Regions from separate parts of the Homo sapiens genome. Here region 1 is linked to region 2. The links come from fine-mapping of genetic effects on gene expression. Tissue or cell type: whole blood. Region 2 holds a variant in brackets; the other region holds the start of a gene. All regions are shown on one strand. Distances are between the middles of the regions.

Region 1 (7,504 bases), 51 kb after region 2:
AAATGGTCAGGCAGGCACCAGTTTGCTTAATTCTGAGGACTCCTGTTCAGCCACAACAAAGAACATGTAAGCCATGCAGATTCATGGAAGACCAAAAATGAAGTAATACGGCACAAAAAAGAAGGAACTCAGGGTGGAAATTCACAGTGAAGACAACAGCTCTCTAGGGCTCAGGTCTGCTCTGTGCAGAGAGGGAGCTCACCCCCTGGGAAGAGGCCTTCCTTGCTCTTGGTTGGCCTGGATGTTTTGAGCAGCTGGGACAATATCCTGCAGAAAGTAGAAGGAATAATCACGAGGGGAAATGGGGCCCTGCTAACATGTGAGTAATAAAAGGGGGAGACAAAATCCAGATGGAAAGCTGATCCTGTCTTTACTTAAAATTCTGATATTTTATTCACCTTGGACTTTTCCCGTTAATGCAGATTTTAAAAATATTTCATTAAAACATGATTTATCTTGATTATTTGGGCACGCTCTTAAATTGTGCAGCCTGGGCAAGTGCCTCACTTGATCACTGATGTCCAGCCCCAAGGGAAAAGCAGGAAGAGAGAACCAGCCTCTAGTCCACAGAACTCAATGGCGATCAACCTCTGCAGGCCTGGAGTGGGGAGAGGCACGGCTAGGACCACAGCCTGGAGGGACCCAGGACGGCCCTGGAAGGCTAAGTGGGGGCGGAAGAGACCTGCCTGGGGCTGCAGCTGGGAAGACTGCTGGGCTTGGGGGGTGGGGCAGTACAGACCATAGGAGCGTTAGGTGTGCTGGGCCCAGGGGTGGCTCCTGGTGACTCACCCCCTTGAGGGTGGACCCAGTGTCTCCCCTCTGCCACACTGAGTCTTTAAGTATGTAGTTGGTTTCCTGGCTGCCCTCAGGCCTGGAGGGAAACCCACCTATTGTGCCAAGAGTGGTGGAGAAGCTCAGAAGCGGGGTGCAAAGTGGGGAAGGGTAGGCAAGGGCTCCAAGCAGGGAGTTGGGAGGTGATTCAGGGGTGAAGCTGCTGATAGGCTCAGGAGGGAGGAACATGGGCCCGAGGTGGGAACTCCAAGGAAGATAACAAGGCTGGGAATAGAAGGCCCAGAGCTCTGTTTCCCAGGCTGGAGCCTCAGGAAGGAGTTCCCAAGGCACTGGGGTAGTGGTAGCTAGAACAGCCATGGAAGCAGAGAGCTAGGAGTTTAGTCTCAAAACAGTAGTGAGATTTTCTCACACCTCACTCTCCTGGACAGCTGCCAGGAGATGTGTGCTTGTTTGCATGGCTGACATTTTTCTGTAAAACTCCCTTCACTCCACATGGAAATGACCCAGGTAGGAAATGACCAGGGTACAAATGGGCCTGATGGCTGGCCTACACTCTCCCTGGGGCGTTGAGGGAGCAGAAGGTGGGTCCCAGGTGCTGCCAATAGCCTCTGGGTGTGGAGTAGCCAGAGGTGGGCAGGTGTCTTTCCAGAAGGCAACCAGGGAGCTGAAGGGAGAAAGCCAGGGACCAAGGCCAGAGAGAAGGAGGCAAAGGAAAGGGTGGGAGTCAGAGAGAGCCTGGGATTGTACAGTCAGGAGGACAGCAAAGGAGGCCGGGAGGAGGGGGAAGGAAAGGGCCAGGCCAGGGTCAGTGGGGAAGTCAAAAGCGGTGCAGGCCTCTAAGTCCAGCTCTGTGGGGGAAGCATCCAGGTCTTGTGCTGCCGCAGCGCCTTCACTCTGAAAATAGGAAAACCACCAGCTAGGAATTTCATTCCTCAGTGTCCCCCCGCCACCCGCCCCAACACATCAACTGTGTGTTCTCCCAGGGCAGGGCCCCTGCCTTTCTGTTCTTTGCCCACCACTCTCACTCCCCAGCAGCCACCGTGGGCCTGGTGCTGAGCAGTCAATCCTTGCTGAACTGAACTGCCCTTGGTGGGGATGTCACACGGGTCAGACTGCTTTGTCAGCGAGGACTCTGGGACAGGCCAACTTGTGTCTCTGATGCAAACCAAGGAAAAGAGCAAGAGGTGAAACTGATGTTCCTTCCCAGCCTTCCCAGTGCCCTGTGCCCCGTGCCAGGCACTTCCTCTGGTTCTATGTGTTCTCATTTTCCCGATGGTGAACCTGTCAGGCCTTGCGAGTTCCCCTCAGAGTTAGGGTTCTCATTCCCCCGAACTCGCCCAGACCCCCAAGCCTGAGCTCTTTCCCTAGGTTGGTGGGACCTTCAGGGAAGGAGGCTGAGGGTGCCCTTCGGAGACCAGTGGCCTGCCTGGGGGATGAAGTGGAGGCCCTCGGATCTGGCCTGGGCGTGCCAGGGCTCAGTGGCAGCCAGAGAGGGGCTGGGCTCCTCCCTGGGAGAGAGGGAAGAGGAGCAGCTGAGGACAGGAGGTGGGTATCTTCTCAGGAGGATGGATGGGAGGGGCCCCTTTGTCATGGTGGGCTGGTGGATGGGGCAGGAAGGGGATGTGGCCTGTGGCTGAATTCTGCTCTCTTTGAAAGCCAGGGAAGTGGCTCCCACAATAAGCCAAGATGAGAGAACTCTAGGGTCCCTGCCTGGGCCCTCCAGAGTTCTCTCCTCCAGCCTCTTGCCTCTGGGTTAGATTTCCCTCAAGACACCCTAAGCTGGGGCACAGTTTCCACTGTGAGCTAGAAGTTTCCGTTTTCTTGAATGTAAATGGGGGGCGATAGTAGTCACTTCCTTTCAGTTTTTGCTCAAATATGTCACCACAGAGAGCCCTCTCTGACCATCCTGTTCCCAACTGCCAGGACTCTGCCTCCCCTACCTTCTGGATCCTTTCGCTGCTTTGTTTTTGTGAACGGCACTTTTCACTTTCTAGGAGGCTGTGTAACTGATTTATTGATTTTTGTCTGCTTTTTCCCCCCAACCCGCAAATACTAGAGCCACAGGGCAGGAGGCTTTGCCTATTTTGTTCCTGTGTCCCCAGCACCTAAAGCAATGCCAGGCACTCAATACATATTTGTTGAATGAACACGTGAAGGATGCGTGTGAAGTGTTTCGCAGGATTCTTGGCATCTTAAGATTATTGCTGCTGCTGTTGTTTGCTGTGTGACTTGAGCACATTCCTTAGCCTCTCTGGCCCTCTGTCTCGCAGTCTGTAAAATGAAAAGAGTGAACCACTAAAGATCCATGAGCTTCTTTCAAACTCTAAAAATCTTGGTGCCTCTGAATGCTCAAGAAAGTTCTTCCCAAACCTCAACAGGAACTCCTTTTTCTTTTTTTTTTTTTTGCAGTTCTCAGCAGCAGCTCAGCTGGAACTTAGCCGGAGGTGCTAAGGACTCCTTTTGCAATAGCCCTTCCTTTACTTCTTTTGACTCTGAGGATCAGAATAGGGTATAGGTTTGGGATCACGAGTCAGCCCAATGTTTCTTGGAACAGTTTCCATTCAGATAGTTATGTTTTATTTCATTGACTTTGATGTGTTGCTTCTGGCACTTTATTGTTTTCAATAGAGGGCAATTCATGATGTGCATAATTAAAGGTCATTTGATTTTCATTTCTTTGTTAAGAGTTTCATAAAAACAAACAGAGTTCAGGAGAAAGCAATTGCCAGACCATGCGCCCAGAGACCATGTGCCCTGATTTGGGATTTGGACACCTGGTCCTTGGAGATGAAGGTTCCCACTGTCCTGCCATAGGTGGGGCTCTGCCCCTGGCCTGGAACGTCCCCTGTGGGGATAGGGTCATCCCTCAGAAGGCTCTGGAGCATCTGTTTCAGGGGCTCAGGTCAACAGGACCAAGACCATCCTCTCAAGGCTCTGCCCTTTCTCTCAGGGCCCCTCTGAAGAAGTAGCTCAGAACACTCCTCTGCTTCTGTGGGGGCAGTTTCATGAGTAAAGGCAGCTTCAGGTTCCCGGTATTTGGAATTTGGTATTCGCTGAGTAACTGGGATGGCCTCGATGAGGGGCAGAGGAACAGGTCTGGCTAGTTCTGTGTTGTTTATACTGGGGATTACTTCACACGTCCCAACCGGCTTCCCCGCCCCATTTGGTGGGGGCTGGCCCTTGGCCCTCCAACTCCTTTACCCTACATGCCTGAGAAGCCAGGGACCAAGATGGATCTTCTCCTCGACATCAGCTAAGCCTGGAGGACTCTTCCCCTCAGAGACCATGGAGAGGGACAGCCACGGGGTGAGTGTGACCTCAGGCCTCGGGCCAGATTCTCCCAGCGCTGAGGAAGCAGGGCTGAGGCTGGGAGACAGGTGGGACAGCTACCTCTGTGTTTCAGGTTTGGGGGAAACTGGCTGTGCCTCTTCTAGTTTGAAGCTACTTACGATCAAGATCTCTTGGTCTCCTTTTAACGTGGTTCTAGAAAAAGCCCCTGGGAGGAGAAGCTGCTGGGATTTGGGGTCTGGCTGGTGAGCACCCCAGGGCTATGTGGCTGAGTCGTGGGTTTCCTGCTCTGTGGTCTGTGAGCACTCCTGCCGGGCATCCATAGTGTTACAGCACCAACTTTGCCGATTGGGAATCCAGGCTAATCTACTTTAATCTCATTTTTGCTGGTTGGAAAATCAAAAGCATTCTAACTGCAATTCAGGGGCATCTTGTCTAAACCCCTCACTACACTCCTAAACCTTCCCAGAAAACTGTGACTTTCTGGGTGCATTCAAGATTTTCAAGGGGATGTTTCAACCTCCGTTGGTCACTTCTTTTTGGACTTAATAACTTTCATGCTTGGGAAGTGCTTCTTGATGTTTAACCACAAGTCCTGCTACCACTCAACTTCCTTTCTTCTGCTGCTCTTGGGGTAGGAGAAAGCAGCTGGCCTGTCCTCTGTGGGAAAGCCAGTCATACACACATGAAGGCTTCCAAAGATCTTGTTCTGCTGTGCCTCCACTTTCTTTTCCTCCAGGAAATCCCTTTTGTGCTCTCATTTCTCCTTTAGGTCTTGTTTTCTGCCCCCTCCAAATTCTCTGTACCTTACCGACATGGTAGAGCCTGGGACTCTGGGAAGAATGGGCTAGCACTGGGTTTGGGAAAGATCAGCTCATCCTATGTTTTGGCTTATAGTTGGCTTGTGGTCCATTCTGCACCCCCAATGTGTTTCTGCAAACTTTACCATCATTTTTTTCCCACCATTCTTCCAGCCCCCTCTTGACTTTTCTTTCCCAGGCTGCCTCCCTTGCCCTCTGCTCTGGGCTCCTTCGTTCATGTCTCTACCTCACCAAAGTCACTTGGCCCTAGGCCTTGGGGGGTTATCAGAGCCTCTTACTGTTGAGCAGTAAGGGGGGTACACAAGGGCATGCAGAAGGTGAACCCTTAGTCACAGCCATGGGGCATCCTCCTTGGCAATATGCTGGGAGCCTAAACTAGATGGTCCCTAAACCCAAGAGTGAGAAGGGCTGAGCTATCCGGAGGGTGGCCATGCTCCCACTGGAGATGGATAGTCCATCCCTGAGACAGGGTGATGGGGCGATATCTTCCCAGGAAGCTCATCTCTTCAGAGTCAGGGATCAACATGAAGGCTGCTGGAGGGATACAGGACAGAGAACAGACTTCTTTGAGGAACTCCCAATTAATCTATGAATTAAGTGTCAAATATTATGATAGGTGCCATATTCATTCTGAAAAAAAGATTGTCCAAACTTACCTTGGAATGGAAGAATGGAATCATTACATTCTTATTTAAGGTTCTTAACTTCACTCCCCTATTTAAGATGGAACTCTGAGAGAGTGAGCCTATAGTTGGGGCTCGTATTCCCATCTGCAGCAGGTTTCTTAACCTTGATTAAATAGGAGTGGTCTGGGAGAAGCTGGTCACCTGAGCTTGTGCCTTCTCCTTGAGGGCTTTATTGCAGAGAGATGCATTGTGATTTCTGTCCCTCAACTCCAAAATGTCGTGAGGAAGATGGTGGCCAGTGGGCTTGAGCCTGATGGCACTCCTCTGTCAGCTGCTGGATCTTCAGAGGGATCTTGGAAAAGAGGTGGAGAAGGGTCTCAGTTTCTCATATTCAAAAGAAAGTTGCATGTCGTGGTGGACAGAGAACTGACCATGTTCCCCGTCAGCTTTGGGCAAGCCACTTCACCTTTCTGTACCTTAGTTTCTTCATCTGTAAAATGGAATAATAATACTACTCTCAAAAGAAGAATGTTGGACAAACTAAATTTAACAGAGTTTAATTGAGCAAAGAACAATTCTCAAATGGAGCAGTCCCCCGAAGGAGAATAGATTCAGAGAGATTCCCACACAGCTGCGTGGTCGGAGAGGATTTATGGACAGAAAAAGGCAAGCAGTGTATGGAAAAAGGAAGTGAGGTACAGAAATAGCCTTATTTGAACACTGTTTGAACAGTTGGCTGCCTTTGATTGTGCAAAATTGGTGATTGTTAACAAGAGTAGTTTACAGTCTGTTTACACGTCCAGTTGAGTTATAGTTCATTATGTACAGAGAAACCTTTTGATCCGAACTTAAAATATGTAAGGAGGCAGCTTTAGGCTAAGCTTAATTTAATAATACCTACCTCAAGGAGTCTCAAAATAGTGTCCTTCCCATAGTAAGGCTCATTTAGAATAGCATCTGGCATAGAGAGATAGAGATAGATAGATAGAGATGGAGTCAGAGAATGTTGAAATTTATCATCACTGCCTAGAATTTGGGGTGGGCTCCTATAAATTTGGACAAACATCTTCTTCTACCTGTGCCTCAGCTTCCCCACCAAAGAAGAGGGTTGGACACATTCCCCCCTGAGGCTCCTTTCTGGCTCCCTGACAGTCTGGAATTACATAGAACGGGGATGACAGGTGCGCCACACCAGATTTGTTCTTGACAATGCGTATTTTGTGCTTTTTCAATTCTCATTTTTAATTCTCAGAGCAGTGCAATGCTTATTAAAGAAAGACTGAATTAGACCCATTGATGAAGCAACATTCCTTTGTGGAGTGGATTTTCTTATACTGGGCCTTCTTCAAGTGGAACAGGTTCCAAATTAGCCCAAGGCCACAGGTGCTAGGGATTGGTGAGAACCGTCTGGGGGCCCACCGCTGGTCCAGGATAAGGCACCCTTTCCAGAGGAGCTGGGCAGTTCCTGAGATGGCTCACCCGCGGGTCAAGTCACTCTGCCATGCCGTGTCCCAGCCCCATCCCAGCCCCAGGCACCCCAAGGACCCTGGCACCTGCCCTATGCCCCTGCAGGTGTGTAGCCCTCACCTCGTCCTCCAAGGACCCTGGCACCTGCCCTATGCCTCTGCAGGTGTGCATCCCTCACCTCGTCCTCCAAGGACCCTGGCACCTGCCCTATGCCCCTGCAGGTGTGTAGCCCTCACCTCGTCCTCCAAGGACCCTGGCACCTGCCCTATGCCTCTGCAGGTGTGCATCCCTCACCTCGTCCTCCAAGGACCCTGGCACCTGCCCTATGCCCCTGCAGGTGTGCAGCCTTCACCTCGTCCTCCAAGGACCCTGGTACCTGCCCTGTGCCCCTGCAGGTGTGCAGCCCTCACCTTGTCCTCTGTTTCATGTTGTCATTGGTGAGGAGCAGACTTCCTTTGGCACAGCCACCTCGATTTCCCCTGCATTGTCCCCTGAGACTTGGCAGATGTG
Region 2 (8,380 bases):
CTGATAGGGACCAGGCACCTCCGGAATTCTCTCTCCAACAAAAGCTTACTTCAGGAGTTGAACATATACCCTGCTGAAGAGTAACTAATTTATAACCTGGCAGGATCCACGATTGCACCAGCCCCTCCACCAAATAAGACGATAATTAAAGAGGACCACTGGAGCAAGTCACACCACCTGGTACCTCCTAACCTCCCCCTTGCCTTTTCTGCATTTCAGATCCTTTCTTAAAAAACCCCTGCGTTCCCCCCATGAATTGAAGAGTGGAATTGTTTGCTGCTCTTCCCCTGCTAGCATGGCAGCTAGCAGATTTTCCTTTATTATCCATTCTTTCTACAAGCAGAGAGCAGCCAGATCCTTTTGCAGGTTACAGGCTGACACATCCAGTTTCTTCGAAAAAAACATTTAATAAGGACTTATAAACAGAAGCTACGTTTGTGTCTCCATGATTCACCCCCAGGACCAGGGCTTATAGACCACAGGGGAAGGGTGATTCAGAAAAGATGTGTAGGACAGTTGAAGTATGATAACATCAAGGTTGTTTGACCTAAGGGCCGGATTTACAGTAAGTGTTTGCACTTACACAAGGAGCAATTGATAAATTGGGAATCTCAGAGGTCTTCTGGGAGGCTCCAAAGCCAACACGGCCAAAACTGTGGATTAGCATCCAACATGGAGTTGCTTTAGCCTCCATAAGGACTTCTCCCAGTCTCTTCTGGGTTTCCCTTGCTTGCTTGAAATCTGATATTCAGACCAATTTTTGTGTTGGGTAATAGCACTACTGGAGTGCTGGGTAACACCTCAGCACATCCTCAGTCTCTCGCACCTCTGTGTCACTTGGCTCATCTGAGGCCATCTCCAGGTGAACCAAATATGTGAGGATATGAGAGACAGACTGTCCATCACTTTTTCTTGGAGGCTGACACCTGCTTCAAAGTGTGTGTGTGTGTGTGTGTGTGTGTGTGTGTGTGTGTGTGCACTTGCAGTCATATATGATTTGCAGTGGCCAGTCTGTGGATTTGGATTTCATTGTGGTGTGGAGAACGTTGTCTGTTTGCCAAGTGCATATGTGTGTTTGGGACTGTGTGTGCATCCCTCAAGCCCTGCCCTTGTTCTCAGACAAACCAAAGAAGAGGGGCTCAGGACATTTCTGGCCAGCAAGGCCCCACTCCAGGCCTGCTGCCCCACCCACCCGGCCATACCCCGCCCTGCCTGTATTGTAGTTTGTACCTTCATTTGTTCCTGAGCTCTTGTCCTGTGTTCAAGAAGAATGAGAATTCGCTGACAGTTGAAGGGTGAGGATGGGCAGAGAATAATTTTATTGAGTGATGGACCAGCTCTCAGCAGAGAGGGGATGGGGAGGGGGGTGGTTCCCCGCTCCCACAGTTGGGTGTTTTTTTTTCTCAGTGTGGCTGGATCCAGGGCTTTTTCTGGACTCAGAATAGGGAGTGCATGCCGATTGGTTTGTGAGTATGCAAAAAAGGTTAAAGTGAAAATACCACTCAAAGGTGGGTACGACAGTGTAGAAAACCAATTAGGAAAGGGTAGGTGTATGTAAAGTAGGTGAAGGGTGGGGATCAATCAGAGGAAAGCGTGCCAAATGGGAAGACAGGTTCTCAATCTGGTCTGAAGATTTAACTTGCAGCTTGGCTTTCAGGTTTTAAGTTGTCTTCAACTTGGAGGTGGGGTTTCACCAGGGACCCGCCCTATCTGCCTAGGCATTTGACTGCCTCCTGTAACTATCACCTGCTCCTGGGAGGTTTCCCTGGCAGTGCCCAATGCCCACATGGAGGGCCTTATTTACTGCAGCTTTTGAGAAAGGGCCCCTAACTTAGGTGTGTGACACCAGCACTGTGCGTGGTCTAGGAGTTAGTGAGGCATTATCCCCATGGTTTGTGGAGATATAAACCCTATTTCAATATTTTCAGAGCGGAAATCTCTCTGCCCAGTGGCCTGGACTGAAAGTGTGCCAGGTTGGCTGGGGGTGGGAGTTGGGAGATCCCATCCTGTATCTAAGAGTCTACATTGGGACTAGAAAGACCTCACTCTTGACGATAGTCAGCGAAGGCAGGGGTGCCTCAGCTACATGGATGGGGGAGAGTGATATCTGCAGGCCTACCAGGACACATCATCAGCCTGGGCCACCCTCAGGAGACAGCTCTTGTTGCCACACCCCCAGATGAGTGGAGAGGGCAAGCCCCAGGCTTTTTTAATGTGTGAAGATTTTTTTTATACTCTCTGTTGCTCAAGTGAGGAATTAAGATGGTAAATTGCTCAGGAGTACCCTGTCATGACCCAAGGGGTGTAGCTGCCTTCTGAAACAACTACTTAGTTACCCCGACCTTTTAAAAGAGAAAGACACTGTGATGTTTCTTCCAGAACTTTTTTTTTTTTTTTTTGAGACAGAGTCTTGCTCTGTCACCCAGGCTGGAGTGCAGTGGCCCGATCTTGGCTCACTGCAAGCTCTGCCTTCCGGGTTCATGCCATTCTGCTGCCTCACCTCCCGAGTAGCTGGGACTACAGGCATCCGCCACCACGCCCGGCTAATTTTTTGTATTTTTTTAGTAGAGACGGGGTTTTACCGTGTTAGCCAGGATGGTCTCAATCTCCTGACCTCGTGATATGGCCGCATCGGCCTCCCAAAGTGCTGGGATTACAGGGGTGAGCCACCGCGCCCGGCAATTTTTTTTTTTTTTTTTTTTTTTTAAGACAGCGTCTCTCTCTGTTGCCCAGGCTGGAGTGCAGCGGCACAATCTCGGCTCACTGCAACCTCCATCTCTCAGGTTCAAGTGATTCTCATGTCTTAGCCTTCCAAGTAGCTGGGATTACAGGCACCCACCACCACGCCTGGCGAAATTTTTGTATTTTTAGGTAGATACGGGGTTTCACCATGTTGGCCAGGCTGGTCTCAAACTCCTGACTTCAAGTGATCCATCTGCCTCAGCCTCCCAAAGTGCTGGGATTACAGGCGTGAGCCAACGCACCTGGCCAGTTCCTGACCTTGTCTTTACTTTTATTTTTTGTTGACGTATAAGAGTCTTACGCGTTACCATTTTGAAGGAGGATCAAAATTTTTAATTCGTTCATATGACAATATTTACTGCACACTCGTTGTGGGCCAGATGCTATAATGATGCTAGGAATAAAATGGTGATCAAAACTAAGTCCCTTTCCCCAAGAAGCAATCTGGGCAGAGGCAGAAAGTGAACAGAGATTTTAATACACAGTGGTAAGTGCTCTGGGAAGGCAAGTACAGGCTGACTGGACAAAAGACAGAGGCACTAAACCACACTTGGGATAGAAGATAAGGAAAACTTCCTGAAGGAGGTGACATCTAAGTTGAGACTTGAGGGAGGAATAGGAGGTAGCTAATGAAGAGTGGATAGGGAGGGTATTCCAGACAGAAGGAAGTGTTTACTTGGAGATTAGGGAATATGGCATTTTTTAAGAACCCTGGAAAGTGGGTAAACTGGCACTCTTGTTTTAAGATGAGAAAACCACAGTGGCTAACATAGGTTAATACCTAGCTCAGGGCAGAGCCAGGATTTGAATGCAGGCTATTCCAATGTATCCTGCTGCCTCATGGAGAGCACCCAGAATAGGAGTTACGTCAGGCATGTGATTACTATACTTGAAAAGGAAGAAAAAGAAACACGGAATCCACATGTTTATTTTGTTTTGTTTTCAGTGTTCTGAAAAGTCCACCCTAAAGTTCTGTGTATTCTGGTATTCACACCAGTAGAGAGACATATGATAGGAGGCAATCATTAAAGGATCTTCTCTTTTTAAATTTTTTCTTAATTTTTATTTATTTATTTATTTATTGA[G/T]ACAAGGTTTCACTCTGTCACCCAGGCTGGAGTGCAGTGGCTTGATCTTGGCTCACTGCAGCCTCTACTTCCCAGGCTCAAGTGATCCTCCCACCTCAGCCTCCTGAGTAGCTGGGACTACAGGTGCAGGCCACCATGCCCAGGTAATTTATTTTATTTTATTTTTTTTGGTAGAGATGACATTTCACCATGTTGCCCAGGCTGGTTTGGAACTCCTAGGCTCAAACGATCCTCCTGCCTTAGCCTCCCAAAGTGCTAGGATTACAGGCGTGAGCCACCACACCTGGCCATATCTTCTATTAATATTTATTGAGTTTTTATGACCTATCGGGCACTATGTGAAATACTTCACATGTTGTGGCAGAGAATGGCCAGATGCTTAGTAATACCAGTTCCTCTTCCTGGGCACATGGGGCAACTATATTTCCCAGTCCCCCTTGCAGTTAAGTAGAATATGTGGCTGGCTTTTAAGCACTGTAAAGTTGAGTTGATGGGTGCCACTTCCAGGCCTGGCTGCTAACTCTGTCTTTGCTATTCTGCCAGCCATCTGGAGGTGTCCAGTGGAGGACTCCAAGGGAATAGAGGGAGCTTGGGCCCCTGAATCACCTCTTGGAGGGCAGCTGTGCAGAAAAGACACCCAGTTTGCATCAGCCTATTGATTGGGTGAGGAGTAAACCCTCTCAAGCCACTGAGATTTTGTGAAGTTTTTTTCATAGCAGCTAGTGTTAACTACCCTGAATAATCTGCAAACCTTATTTCATTTAATCCTTATAAACACTCAGTGAGATAAGCATCATTATCAGTGTTTTACAGATGGGAAAATGAGGTGAGAGACTGAGTCACTTGCCCATGTCATTCACTCAGTACGTAGCAGAGCTAGAAGCCTGTTCAACTGGTCTGTTTGACTCCAGAGCTCATGCTTTTACTACCATGTGAACAGTGCCCTTCTGAATCTTGGAAGAATTCTTGCAAGAGACAAATGTCAAGTGATTGAGAGAAAGAGAGAACGGGGTTGGAGAAAAAGACAAGGGGGAGGGCAAGAGAGGAGGAACAGCTGAGGGCTGAGAGTCTTGTAGATGGTAGAGGGACGTGGCTAGCCCAGGGAACCAGGGAACCTGCTGCGTGAACATCTGGCCCCTAGGGTTACCCTGGGAAATTTTGAGGGCAGATTTTGGGCTCTGGGTGGTTCCATTGTCTCATTTTCATTTGACTTTATCTTGGTGCTCAGGATGATGCTGTTAAATGGGCATGCCTGGGGAGTCGGATGGGCATCTGAGTTGGCAGGAAGTCTGTGCTTGAGTGTGCTAACAAGCGTAACTTGCAGTTTCTGTCCCTCAACTGGTGAGTAGGGAAGTTCCAGGACTTGTGATCACTGTGTCAGAGCTGCACATAACAAGGAGAGAGACACAGAGGGAACTGACCGTAAGAAGGAGACACAGAGAAGGAAACTGTGTGGGTAGGAAACTTGGTAGTTGTTGGGTCCAGGAGAATTGCAGATGCACAGTGAGGGGCTCGCCCAGCCCCAGCAACGGCCCTGGGAGAAGTCTCCAGTTGCCAAACCTAATGAGTGTCCACATCCCTTCACCTTCTCCCTGGCTCCCCCCTGGAGGAGCACCAAAGAGCTCAGAAGGGACAAAACCCCATTCTCAACATTCCTCTCGACTCTGTGTGGTGGCTCAGGCTTGAATGGGGAGTTCCTAGAACTTTAGCTGGGTGGGTGAAAGGCATCAGTGAAGGGTTTTAGGCAGGAGAGGGATATGGCAGATTTGCATTTTAAATAGAAGAGGAAATCTAGAGCATGAAGGTGAGTAGCCAGGGTAACTCACTAGTTAGTGACAGAATTAAAACTTTGGTCTCCAGATCGAAGCTCAACTCTCTGGCTCTCAAACCATAGCAGCTAAGTTTGTGGAACTGTGAAGACTGCGTGAGGTTGTCATGCCCATCAGTTTAGGGGGAAGGGGAAGAAGTACTGATCTCCCAGGTGAAGGAATGCCCATGCTAATTACTTTAAATCAGCAGAGCTGGGGCTAAGAGCCTTCTCATTCCTATAATCTGCCTGGGACACTGTTCTTGGTCATTGCCTTAGGTGGGAGGAGCCTGGTTACCTCAAAACCAACAGACCTACTTCTAGCCCCAGCTTGGTCACTACCAGTCGTGCACCCTGGAACCGGTCCCTTTGGCTCTATTAGCTGTTGGCAAGATTGGAATCTGGGCTGTTGTAAAGCCAGACACAAAGTGTTCTGGTAACTGATAATGGCTTCTCAAGTGAGAGTGAGAGGTGACAGCCTGCTGGCAGTCCTCAGAGCCCTCGCTTGCTCTCGGCACCTCCCCTGCCTGGGCTCCCACTTTGGCGGCATTTGAGGAGCCCTTCAGCCCCCCCACTGCACTGTGGGAGCCCCTTTCTGGGTTGGCCAAGGCTGGAGCCCACTCCCTCAGCTTGCAGGGAGGTGTGGAGGGAGAGGCTCCAGCGGCAACCGGGGCTGCGTGCGGCGCTTGCGGGCCAGCTGGAGTTCCGGGTGGGCGTGGGCTTGGCGGGCCCCGCACTCGGAACAGCCAGCCAGCCCTGCTGGCCCCGGGCAATGAGGGACTTAGCACCCGGGCCAGTGGCTGCGGAGGGTGTACTGGGTCCCCCAGCAGTGCCGGCCCACCGGCGCTGTGCTCGATTTCTTGCCGGGCCTTAGCTGCCTTCCCGCGGGGCAGGGCTCGGGACCTGCAGCCCGCCATGCCTGAGCCACCCACCCACTCCATGGGCTCCTCTGAGGCCCGAGCCTCCCCGTGGAGCACCACCCCCTGCTCCAAGGCGCCCAGTCCCATCGACCACCCAAGGGCTGAGGAATGCGAGCGCACGGCGCAGGACTGGCAGGCAGCTCCACCTGAAGCCCCGGTGCGGGATCCATTAGGTGAAGCCAGCTGGGCTCCTGAGTCTGGTGGGGACGCGGAGAGTCTTTATGTTTAGCTCAAGGTTTGTAAACACACCAATCAGCACCCCTGTGTTTAGCTCAAGGTTTGTGAGTGCACCAATCGACACTCTGTATCTAGCTGCTCTGGTGGGGCCTTGGAGAACCTTTGTGTCCATACTCTGTATCTAACTAATCTGATGGGGACGTGAAGAACATTTGTATCTAGCTCAGGGATTGTAAATTTACCAATCAGCACCCTGTCAAAACAGGCCACTTGGCTCTACCCATCAGCAGGATGTGGGTGGGGCCAGATAAGAGAATAAAAGCAGGCTGCCCGAGCCAGCGTTGGCAACCCGCTCGGGTCCCCTTCCACCCTGTGGAAGCTTTGTTCTTTCGCTCTTTGCAATAAGTCTTGCTACTGCTGACTCTTTGGGTCCGCGCTGCTTTTATGAGCTGTAACACCGCGAAGATCTGCAGCTTCACTCCTGAGCCCAGTGAGACCACAAGCCCACCAGGAGGAACGAACAACTCCAGATGCGCTGCCTTAAGAGCTGTAACACTCTCCGCAAAGCTCTGCAGCTTCACTCCTGAGCCAGCGAGACCACGAACCCATCAGAAGGAAGAAACTCCGAACACATCTGAGCATCAAAAGGGACAGACTCCAGACGCGCCACCTTAAAAGCTGTAACACTCACCGCGAGGGTCCGCAGCTTCATTCTTGAAGTCAGTGAGACCAAGAACCCACCAATTCCGGACACAAGAGGGAGTGAGGTCTGTAGAAACATTCAGCAAAAAGCACGCTGACTAGAGGGATCTAGCCCCTTTCTTTCATGGCCTGGATGTGTTTGGCCTCACTCTGGGTTGTATGTTGTGCTGAGGCCCACCACACCATCTTGGGACAACTGGGCCTTTGGTTGTACTTGGGACACCTCCCTCCCCCAGAATTATTTTAAGAAAATCACCTCGTCAGGAAGGCTGTGGACCTGGTCCATGAACTTAGTCCATTGTCATTGCTTTGTGAACTTGGGATGCAAGAAGTGAAGAACAGAACATTGACAGAAATATCTCGTGTCATTTCAAGACACAGTCGTGTCTTCCTTCTGCAGCCCAGATGGCCTTGACTTCTCCAGTTTTTAAGGGTGTCATTTCCCCTTAATTCTAAAATAACAACAGTTTGAACTCCCATCCCACAAATGCAGGAAGTCCATCTGCTCTTGGGTTTCCAATCCCAGAGCCATCCTAGAGGGCTTGCACCTCACCTCTGAGCGTCTCACGGTGGTGGCCTCTGAGCTGCAGCTGTTTGTTTGAAGTACGGACACAGGCCCAGCATCTTTGAAAAAATGCTATTGGAAGCTCTCAAATAACAAAAGTACCAAAGAGATAGTCTGTTACAACTGCTCAAAGCAGTAGTTTCAGAGCACCCACCAGTTCAGCTGCATTTTGCAAACCCTCCTTAAGCTTCTGGCAATGTTGGTGGCAGGGAGAGGCCAGTGAACTTCTTGCCTTTGGAAGTCTCTAGGCCTCTCTGAACACCCTCCTTGCCCATAAAGAGAGCAGAGGCCTTCCTCTTCCTGCCCAAAGACCACCTTGTTTTGTTTTGTTTTTAACTTTTTGCCTCAAGATGATTCACAGCAAGAACATCAATATCTTTCA

Evidence for each region. PIP is the estimated chance that this variant, and not a neighbour inherited with it, causes the effect.
Region 1: TMPRSS13 starts here. The variant in region 2 is fine-mapped to the expression of TMPRSS13 in whole blood (TOPMed, PIP above 0.99).

The regions. Positions count from the first base shown.
Region 1 is chr11:117,925,881-117,933,384 of GRCh38, reverse strand. TMPRSS13 (transmembrane serine protease 13) reads left to right here and starts at 3,983. Exons shown (of 13, transcript NM_001077263.3): 1 at 3,983-4,098. The coding sequence starts at 4,078. RefSeq lists enhancers at 222-760, 993-1,122, 761-1,300.
Region 2 is chr11:117,976,773-117,985,152 of GRCh38, reverse strand. No RefSeq gene overlaps it. Among named protein-coding and RNA genes, the nearest start is that of IL10RA, 5.4 kb to the left of the region's middle. RefSeq lists an enhancer at 7,655-7,824. The variant G/T (reference allele first, on the strand shown) is at 3,828.